Linked DNA regions of Homo sapiens. The protein of the gene in region 2 purifies or fractionates together with the protein of the main gene of each other region. This does not show direct contact. Each region holds a gene or a part of one and is shown on either strand. Other genes may lie near its edges. The genes, in order: CPSF6 and SON.

Region 1 (7,304 bases), on a different chromosome or scaffold from region 2:
GGGAAAAGGAAAACTAAAATGAAACAGAAACAGGAGCAGGAAAAAAATAGAAGAGGGTTCAATTTGTAACTAAGTACATGAAAAATGAAATGTAGGTAAAAGCAGAACACTCAACACTATTTAATTGCCTTTGATAACCATTAAATAGACCATAAGCTTGACTAAGCCTGTAGCACAGGAAAATCTCCATTTTTATCTTCTACTCTCCCTTTCCACAACTAAGTACTTGTATTGGTGTGAACCATTTTATTCTTATGACATAGAACATCTGACATAAGGAAAAAGACAATTATAAGACAACCTGAAAGTTCAGACGTAACTTACAGATTCTCCCATTAATACAATTTACTAAAGAATTATACAAATGGCACATATGGAGGAGCTAATGGTTTTAGGGACTATTAGCCAAAATAGTCCCTAAATGGATAGAATGACCCAGAGAAAAGCATTTGTTATATGATGGTAAACAGAGCAACAAGATATTATGGGCCCAGGCTACTGTTTTGCTATTTAAAGGAGAGCCAGAATAAGATCTTTTATTTATTTTGTATTTTTTTAATTTTAATTTTTATTTATTTATTTTTTTGAGACGGAGTCTTGCTCTGTCGCCCAGGCTGGAGTGCAGTGGCGCAATCTCGGCTCACTGCAAGCTCCGCCTCCTGGGTTCACGCCATTCTCCTGCCTCAGCCCCCCCCCCCCCCCCCGAGTAGCTGGGACTACAGGCGCCCGCTACCTTGCCCAGCTAATTTCTTGTATTTTTTGTAGAGATGGGGTTTCACCGTGTTAGGCAGGATGGGTTAGCCAGGATGGTCTTGATCTCCTGACCTCGTGATCCGCCCGCCTCGGCCTCCCAAAGTGCTGGGATTACAGGTGTGAGCCACCACACCCGGCCGAGAATAAGATCTTTTTAAAAGAAAAAGAAAAAAGCCTAGTAGGGGAAATATCATTTATATTCCTAAATAAAGGGACCTCAAGTAATCATCAGGTAATCGTTTATGTAATTAATGACTTATCCAATTTACTAGTTACAGAATCTTTACATACCAATTTTACTTGTTACGAGGTAGAATGTCTATAAGACTTATTTAATAAGGGGTCTGGGATCTCAAGGTTAAATCAGAGAACAAAGCTAAATTTAACAAAGGGCAGAAACTAAGACCACAAGTCACTGAATAATGCCATAATTTTATTCTGTTTGTACAGCAATACTAAAATAATCTTTAAGAAATGAGTTTTTGTTAAACAAAGTAACATGCTCAAATTGCAATGACCACAGAAATTAGGAAAAAAGAGGGTAAGTTTTGTTATGAAGTTTCAGTGTGGCTGAAGCTTCAGGCGGTGTGGCTGCAGCAGTAGTTCCATGCACTTAAGATACTAAAAAGTTTCCCACAAGGGGTGTTGGGCACTTTAAACTCTCTTGCAATCCGGTTCTGAACATCAAGTAGAATTACTAATATTATTCAAAGGGAGTTGAGTTTCCATCCTCCTCAGCAGAAACTATAATCACAATATATGGTCTGAGGGAAAGTAAAAAAGAATGGAAGGGTTATTAACAGCAGGACTAAATGTATTTTTAAATTTACACTTTCACTTACATAAATAGGTGAACAGATTCTTTGTTTTCTTCTATTAGCTACAAACCTGTGAAAATGTTTACATAAGTAGACAAAAAATTTACAAGCATAATTGCAGCTACACTAACCTGGTATATCACAATCACTTACTATTTTTGTCCATCCATGAATTCCTATGTTGACACAAACCAATTTTCCACATTGATATGATTCTACCAATATTTAGGATCAGCCATTTTGTCTGGTAGTTGTACTGCTTCCAAGTGGTTGTAGTACGATCCTAATTAAGACCATGGTCCTGGGGTTTGATCTCCATGTGGACTAGTTAGCTTCTCTCTGTTCCAAGGCCACAGCCTGTACACTTAGCCCCAATGGTATACATTTAAACTTTGTGAAAAAACATAATGAATCTGAATACATTTGCTGCCATTACTAAAAATGAAACTCAAAGCACACTCTTTTGTAGTTATCAGTAACCTTCCTTTTAATCAGCTTCATATCACATCAATCCTCCAGCGTAAAAAAAAATACAGAACATACTGAACTTTGTTCTTACTTCATAAAGTGAGAAAATATGCATGATGTTTGCATGAGAAATTATGCAAAATGTATATCACAGGTCATATATAAATAAAGCTCTGTGAGCCTACTGAACAGACTAAAAAAAAGGTTTCCAGTTTGTCAAAGAAATATTTCACGGTATCATTTTTTATTACATGAAGGGTCTTTTCAATTATTACTTTTAATTTTAATGGCATTCAAAAAACAAGAAAATATCAACATCATTCCTCTAATTATCTTTGATACCAAATGTTGCCCAATCTTATCTGCTGTTCATAGTAGCTAGCCAGCTATGTTACATAAAGCTTGGAATAAACAACAGCTCTTAGGGTTTGTTTAAAAAAAAAAAAAACTCACTAATTTTTTTCATTCCCTACCATTCTAAATCACTACAATCATTCTTTAGACAAGGTATTCTCTCAACATTTTACACAACAAGATTATGCTCCACATGATATACAAATATCTGTTGCCAAGCCAGAGAAAATGGATGGCAAAATGACCAAAATCCTATTAGTTCCCTTAAAGTATGGCTTCTCAACCTTTTCATTATCCCTGTCTCCTCCCTCCCTTCAAGAAGTTACTTTTAGACATTTTTTCCCTAATTACCCCTCTTACAATTTTAATATCACAGATATACGATACATACTGTATACCACTATTGGGATGAACTTGTTGGCTGTCAAAATATTCATCATTCTCCCTGACAGGCCTGATATTTTTTTGATGGTTCTAAAATTACAGTAATATCATTCGAGGCTAGGCATGGTGGTTCATGCCTGTTAATCCCACCACTTTGGGAGGCCAAGGCAAGAGGATCCCTTGAGCCCAGGAGTCTAAGACCAGCCTGGGCAACTTAGGAAGATCCCATCTCTACCATAAAAATACATAAATACATACAAAATTCGTGCATTATATGATACTATCAGTAAATGCACAGCAAAGGCCACTTGTTTCAAAGCCTATTTTAAATTATTTCCATTTAGAGAAATATATGAAGGGGGGAAGTTACATTTTGCATTTACAAAATATATCCTATACCTCGGAAAAGAAATACTAGTATGCAAAATCCAATAGCAGATAACCTAATGCATACATTTTTAAAGAAAATATATCATTTTCTGGTTTTATCTAATTATGTTCTCAGTAGTTATTAAAACTGGCTAGTAATCCCTGTAAAAATCCCTTCCTTATATAATGGTAAGGAATTTGGTACTAAAAATATGCCACATAAACCATAGTGGACAATTCACAGGCAACTAAATTAACTGCACCCATAAATAACAAAATAGAGAAGAGTTCTAGCTTCCCTGAACATTTCTATCCATTTTTCTGAATCAATTCTACCTAGCTCATTCTCAACCTGACAGCTTTATTTCAGATGGTTTTCTAGTAAACATAAATAAATCATAAACAATGTTTCTCTGATATTTGTCCAAGAAATTTATTTTCATTAATTGGCTCAACAATTGGCTAGAATACATACATAATGACTGAACGTAAAGCAAAATGATTCATGACATAAAAACTGACTTATCGGATGTCCAGGTCCGTAACTCCTAAGTGAATTCTTTGTTCCAACTACTGCCTCTATACACCTCCATTCTTTTAAAAGTAATTAATCTATTTTTGTGTGTGACAAAGTCTCGTTCTGTCACTCAGGCTGGAGTACAGTGGCCTGATCTCAGCTCACTGCAGCCTCTGCCCCCCAGGTTCAAGCAATTCTCCTGCCTCAGCCTCTGAAGTAGCTGGAATTACAGGTGTGCACTATCATACCTGGCTAAATTTTGTATTTTTAGTAGAGACAGGGGTTTCGCCATGTTGGCCAGGCAGGTCTCAAACTCCTGACCTCAAGTGATCCGCCTACTTCAGCCTCCCAAACTGCTGGAATTATAGGCATGAGCCACCGCACCTGGCCTACACTTCCATTTTAAAGCTGGGTGGTCAGATTACTAAATTTGTGCTATCGGTGATGGCCTGACAGAGCAGAAACTAAATTCCACATTAAGAGTTTCTGACTCCCAAACAAGCAACAAAACATACTACTTCAATGCAAGCAGTGTAAGTTTCCCTAAAGTTCACAGAATTTTTTTGACTTTCCTCTCCAGATCAACAAAACTTTACACATAAAACATAAAAGAATGGTAACTACAATATAGGACCTGTCAGTGTGCTATAATTATAGTAGTCCCCTCTTATCTGAGAGGGATATGTTCCAAGACCCCCAGTGGATGCCTAAAGCCACGGAAAGCAAGGAACCCTAAATATACTATGTTTTTCTTTATATATACCTACGATAAAGTTTAATTTATAAAGTAGGCACTGTAAAAAATAACTAATAAAAGAGAACAATTTAGTCATGCATGACAATGTTTTGGTCCAGGTGGTCAGATTATAATGGAGCTGAAAAATTACTATTGTTTAGCGATCTTAGCCCAATGCATTCCTCACGTTTGGGCTCGTAATGCTGGTGTGAACAAACCTACTGTGCTCTCAGTCATATAAAAGAATAGCACATACAATTATGTACAGTACACAATACTTGACAATAAGCGACTGTGTTACTGGTTTATGTATTTATTATACTATACTTTTTTGTTTTTACACTTTTTTTTTTTTTTTTTTAAATAGAGACGGAGTTTCGACATGTTGGCCAAGCTGGTCTCGAACTCCTGGCCTCAAGCAATCTGCCGCCTCAGGCTCTCAAAGCACTGGGATTACAGGTGTGAACCACCACACCAAGGCCAACTATACCATACTTTTAATCATTATGTTAGAGTGTACTCTTCCTACTTCAAAAAGTTAACTGTAAAACAGCCTCAGGCAAGTCAGTCCTTCACCACGTATTACAGAAGAAGGCAGTTATCCTAGGAGATGACAGCCCATGCATCATACTGCCCCTGAAGACCTTTCCAGTGGGACAAGATGCAGAGATGGAAGACAGTGATATTGATAATCCTGACCCTGTGCAGGCCTAGGTTAATGTGTGTATATCTTAGTTTTTAAAAAAAGCTTAAAAAAAAAAAGACCAGGTTCAGTCGTTCATGCCTGTAATTCCAGCCTCCTTTGGGAGGCTGAGGCAAGAGGATCACATGAGGCCAGGAGTTTGAGACCTGTGCAACACAGTAAGACCTTGTCTCTTCTAAAATAAAATTAATTTTAAAAGTTAAAAAAAAAAATTTAATAGAAAAAAGTTTAGGCCCAGTGTGGTGACTCATGCCTGTAATCCCAGCGCTTTGGGAAGCCAAGGCAAGAGGATCACTTGAGGTCACGAGTTCGAGACCAGCCTGGCCAACATGTGAAACCTCGTCTCTTACTAAAAATACAATAATTAGGCAGGCATGGTGGTGAGTGCCTGTAATCCCAGCTGAGGCAGGAGAACTGCTTGAACCCAGGAGGCAGAGGTTGCGGTGAGCCAAGATCGCGCCACTGCACTTCAGCCTGGGTGACAAAGCGAGACTCCATCTCAAAACAAAACAAAACAAAAAAAAGAAGTAAGTTTACAGTATAAGGATATAAAGAAAATATTTTATATAGTTACACAATGTGTTTGTATTTTAAACTGTTATTATTGAAGAGTCCAAATTTATAAAGTAAAAACGGGCCAGTCACAGTGGCTCACGCCTGTAATCCCAACACTGGTAGGTCAAAGCAAGAAGACAGCTTGAGCCCAGGAGCTGGAGACTAGCTGGGACCTCATCCCTACAAAAAAAATTTGAAATTAGCCAGGCATGGTGGCACATGCCTGTAGTCTCAGCTGCTCTGGAGACTAAGACAGGAGGACTGCTTGAGCCTGGGAGATAAAGGCTGCAGTGAGCCACAACTGCACCACCGCACTCCAGACTGGATGACAGTGAGAAAATAATCAATCAAGTGAAAACATTACAGTAAGCTCATGTATTATTGAAGAAAAAAGTTTAAATAAATTTAGTGTAGCCTGAGTGTACTGTACAGTGTTTATGAAGTCTACAGCAGCATGTCCCAGATCTTCACATTCACCCACCACTCACTTGCTGACTCTCCCAGAGCAACTTCCAATCATGCAGGTTCCTTTCATGAGTGCCCTACACAAGTGTGCCACTTTTTATCTTTTATATCAAGATTTTCACTTACCTTTTCTGTTTAGATATATTAGATACACAAATACCACTGTGTTACAACTGCCTACAGTATTCAGTACAGTAATATGTTGTACAAGTTTGTAGCCTAGGAGCAACAGGCTACACCATATAGCCTACATGTGTAGTAGGCTGTACCTTCCAGGTTTGAAATGCAAAAGCACTCTATGATCACAAATGACAAAAGCACCTAAGATGGACTTCTCAGAACATACCGCCATCGTGAAGCGACACATGATTGTAGAACAGTTTACTGTCATAAAAGTTAGCTAAATATAGTATCTCTCAAACTACCTTATTGTATGTAATATTTTCAGACCTCAGAACCACGGGTAACTGAAACCACAGAAAGTGGAACTGTGGATACGTGTGCACTACTGTATGTAGGTATCTCTCAGCTCCCCTACAGTGTACTCTAAGGGTAGAGACTACCTAAACTTTGTATCCCTCGTTGTTGGCACATAACAGACACTCAACAAATGTATTTTGAACAATTCAATCTTTTTTTTTTGAGACAGGGTCTTGCTGGAGTGCAGTGGCCCGATCTTGGCTCACTGCAACCTCTGCCTCCCAGGTTCAAGCGATTCTCCTGCTTAGCTTACTGATTAGCTGGGATTACAGGCAGGCACCACCATACTCGGCCAATTTTTGTATTTTGATAGAGATGGGGTTTCACCATGTTGGCCAGGCTGGTCTGCAACTCCTGACCTCAAGCGATCTGCCCACCTTGGCCTCCCAAAGTGCTGGGATTACAGGCATGAGCCACCACACTCGCGCTAAACAATTCAACTTTTAAATTATTTAGTTTTGGCCAGAATTTTAAAATCTACAATTACTAAATATTGGGCTAGTAATTACTACACTTGAGTATAAATGCAGTTTAAACTGAATTGATATGCTACTGTGAGACAGAATCACTTTCTTCTCAACTTCAAGTAATAGAGAGGTTTGGAAGATGTTCAAATTCCCCTTCCAGCTGTTCTCAGCTTGGTGACATCCAAAGACCTCTAAGAACTAAAGAGAACCCATAAGGAGTAGCCAGTCCCTTGTG
Region 2 (4,248 bases):
TTTTAAATGTGTTTTACTATTTTCAGATTAGATTTTTAGATATAAAGATGAAAAACTCAGATAACTCAAATGAGATATCTATATCCCTACAACCTAATTGTATATTGAGCAGAAACTGAATTAATATGCTTCCTTGCAAATGGGAAATCACATAGCAGTTACCCCATGGCATTGTGACTAATGGCATCAGGGCAAAAATATGTTACTTTACGATTTACCTGTTAGCAGGTTCTTGTTTCATAAAGGTAGAAAATAAATACAGACAACATCTACTGAGCTAGTTGATTGGTGATGCTTCTACCTTAATATCTTTCCTACTGATTTATAATTCCTTTATTTTCACATATACTAAAACTTTTTAAATGCATGTTAATTCAGATAAAAAGGCATTTTGTATTCCACATAGAATAGTGTTAAGAATTGTGAAGTACACTGAGCTGTCACGGCAAAGTAGTATTTAATGTGCTTATAGGGGTGTGTGTGTGTGTGTGTGTGTGTGTGTGTGTGTGTGTGTGTGTGTGTGTGTGTGTGTGTGTGTGTGTGTGTGTGTGTGTGTGTGTGTGTGTGTGTGTAGGGGGGGACTGTATAATTCACATTTTTAAAATAAAAGTGCTTAAAAATCAAAAGCATTGGGTAAAGAAATAATAGTATCTAAGTATTTGTTCACTTTATAACCCAGAAAATAAAACACCACGTTTATTCCAGAGAAGTTTGTATTTGGGCCTTAAGCTTTTGAAAATAAAGTTTAGAGACATAGCATATGAATACCACTGTAATACACATGAAATATTCTATCAGACCCTAAAAATTAACATAAACTTTTAACTTTCTCATAGTCAACAAAATAGTGGCTGGTTGCCAATTTTATTAGATAAGTTGGTTACAGCATTTTAATTATCATTTTACGTCTATCTAGGTGTAGCTGAAATTCAAAATGCACATCAAAGTAAAACTATATCACAACTCAATGCCATACTAAATGTACTGGCCTCTGCAATAGAATTCTAGTCAGACTTCATTTTTTACTCCCTTCTTATGACCCAAGTGGCTTTAACAGGAATGCAGGACTTAGTGCTGATCATCACACAACATACCACTTTCTTTTTAGAACCTCTACAAAATTTTGAGGGGAGATGGTGGCATTAGCCCTGTGGAACAGATCTTGATCACCTCAATAACACTGGCCCATTATCTGTCCAGCAGAACCCATTGTGAAATAGTACAAGGTGCACAGCCCTTCACTGATTACAGGCAAGTGTTACAGTAGCCTAGCCATAAGGAAGGGGAGTTACATCATAGTACAAAATACAGTATAAAAGCGTTATTTAACATTCCACACTGAAGATTACTCTGATGCCTTCAAACAGTCGTTTGGATGTTAGCCACTTAAACAAATACATCACTAAGGTAAACAATATAAACATACCAAAACCCTGTATGGTTAAATACAATTTCCATGGTACAAAAATCAAAGCCTGGAGATGTTTTTACAGATTGCTTTTTACACAATGTCTTAAATTGCCAAATATTTACAACATTAAAGAGGAAATACATTGTGATGCAGAGTAAAATTCTGAAATGATTATTATAAAACCTCAATCTATCTACGTGAGGCACTCCTGAAGCAAGTGGCATTAGCCATGAGGTCCTTTGGTACAAGGCCCATTGCTTGAAGAACCACAGTAGCTGCTGTGGCTTTAGCATGCTTCTTATTAGGGCTGGCAAAGCTGGGCTGGTAAGCGCTTCCATTTATCAATACCTATTCAAGAAAAACATACAATTGGGTCTGGTAAGGGCTCCATTTCTCAATACCTATTCAAGAAAAACATACAATAAGAACAGCATCAAACTTTAATATCTATTAGCTTTGTATTTTTTCACTAAATGCTAGAAAAATAATTTACAAAAATATAAAACCCATACTATGTAAGTCAAATTATAATCTCAACCCGAAGAACCAAATCATTTGGGAAAGGGACTGCAAATTAGAGCAGGTCTCCAAATTGAGAAAAAGACTGACAAAAGTATTAAATTAATTCCCCACATTCAACTAGAAAATAACAATTGTATACTATATTTTACCCTTTTCCAATTTTTTAAAAAATAGGACATTGACAAGTCGTATTAAAGCACCCTTCAGTGTTTAAAAACCCCACCACTTAACTACAAATACAAACCCCCCACCCATGAACAGAATCTTAATCCTGTGATCATGTTTACCCCTCACCCTCTAAGTCATCACATTAATAAATATATATAATTAATGCAGAAATTCATATTTACCCTAAAGAGAAAATGTTTGCGATGATCAGGGCCACTATCATGGACCAATAGAAATTCAGGTGGTTGCCACCTTCTTTTATTACAGATCTCCATCAAAGCAGACACAGGATGTTTGCCTGCAGGGGGGAGAAATACCCAGTTTTAAATTATTTCCACCAACTTCTGCAACAAATAATGAATTCAAGGTGGGATTAGGGTAAGAGGAAATTCAAAAACGTGCTCTCACCTGACAGATCTTTCATTGCAGCAGAGAAGTTCCCAGACCTCTTTTGTGCTCTTTCTCCTACTGCAACAAGACCTTTAAAAAAAAATTGTTCACTAAATAAATTTCAAAGCACCACTTTAAAACAAAGATCCCTCTGTAGGAGTCTGAACCTCAAAATGTATGCCTTCAAATAAAATCAGCAGATTCCTAGTACACTCGATTTCTCTATCAATCTTCTCTTTCTTCTCTTTTACTGTTTTTCAGCATATAAATTTATATTTAATATTCATAGATCTTGGTATGAGAAATTGTAATAAATACCAAATGTAAACAGAAAACAAAAAGTTAAGTATGGCCAGGCACAGTGGCTCATGCCTGTAATCCCAGCACTTTGGGAGGCCGAGGCGGGTGGATCTCCTGAGGTCAAGAGTCTGAGACCAGCCTGGCCAACATGGTGAAACCCCGTCTCTACTAAAGAAACAAAAATTAGCCGGGCGTGGTGGTGCGCGCCTGTAATCCCAGCTACTCGGGAGGCTGGGGCAGGAGAATCGCTTGAACCTGGAAGCGAAGGTTGCAGTGAGTAAAGATCGTGCCACTGACAGCCTGGGCAACGAGCAAAACTCCATCTCAAAAAAAGAAAAAAAATAGCTTATTGCCAAGTGATTTCTGCAGATTTACTGTCTCTTAAAAAAATAAGCTTCAGTTAAGACTCTTCCAAAAAAGGTTAGGATTTTAAGCCACCAAAAAGGTGAAAACGGTTGTCTCCAAATAAAATAGGTCCCTTTTTTCCTAGCAAACTCTCCTCTCCCTTCCTAACAAATGGGAGATGTTCTCAAAATATGAACATAACCTTTCTACATAACCTCTCTCTCCATAGACTTATTACAAAGGGGATTAGCTACATTGCTAAACCCAAACACTGCTTTCCCAATTCATATACAGGTTGAGTATTCCTTATCCAAAATGCTTGGGACCAGAAGTGTGTCGGTTGATTCCAGGTTTTCAAATATTTGCATTGTATTTAGCGGTCAAGCATCCCAAATCTGAAGAGGCTGAAATCCAAAATGCACCAATGAGTATTTCCTTTGAGCATCATATCAGTATTCAAAAAGTTTTCTGTTTTAAAGCATTTCAGGTTTCCAGATGTGGGATGCTCATCCTGTATGTTACAGGAAATTTTTCAACCTTTGCTAAATAATTCCATGCTAATATAAGCTTTTCTAAACCTATCCTGGGAAATCTGTGGTTCTCTGAGAGCTTACAGTCAGGCCATGTCCCACAATTCCAAGGACAATGCTTCCTGAAATTGTACAATACTTAACATCAAAGTATTTGGTGCAGAGCTAGTTCATTTCCAAATTCATTAAGACAGTTTAACTATTGAAGTTAGCTTCAACTTACTGTTTGATTACAAAGATGAAAATAAATCCCAGTTTTACATTTGTCAGCTTTTATAAATGAGGTTTAAACAAGCTATACAAAAATCATACTGAGCTGGCAAGCCTCTCATGATTCCACTTACATTATTCCAAGGGAAGAAGTTATTTAAAAGACGCCAATTAGCTATCATCTGTGGGAATGATTAAATACTTAGCAACTACATACAAGCTACATAGAAGACACAGTGCTGCCCTGCCCAGGTATCTGAAGGTAAAAGGAAAATACAGTCAATGCTAACAGTTCCAAGATGCCTTAACACAAGGCAACAGGAAGAAGTAACATTATTGTCAGCAGCTGGTCTACTATACTCTAACCCAACT

Evidence for each region.
Region 1: the proteins of SON (region 2) and CPSF6 purify together in Homo sapiens (affinity purification with mass spectrometry; 2 studies listed by BioGRID and IntAct, with this or other methods). This does not show direct contact.

The regions. Positions count from the first base shown.
Region 1 is NC_000012.12:69,242,553-69,249,856, reverse strand, and holds part of CPSF6 (cleavage and polyadenylation specificity factor subunit 6), read right to left. Parts: intron 1-7,304. UniProt on the Homo sapiens protein: Component of the cleavage factor Im (CFIm) complex that functions as an activator of the pre-mRNA 3'-end cleavage and polyadenylation processing required for the maturation of pre-mRNA into functional mRNAs.
Region 2 is NC_000021.9:33,573,929-33,578,176, reverse strand, and holds the end of SON (protein SON), read right to left. Parts: intron 2,582-4,248; coding exon 2,510-2,581; intron 2,400-2,509; coding exon 2,284-2,399; intron 1,813-2,283; coding exon 1,753-1,812; 3' UTR 696-1,752; downstream 1-695. UniProt on the Homo sapiens protein: RNA-binding protein that acts as a mRNA splicing cofactor by promoting efficient splicing of transcripts that possess weak splice sites.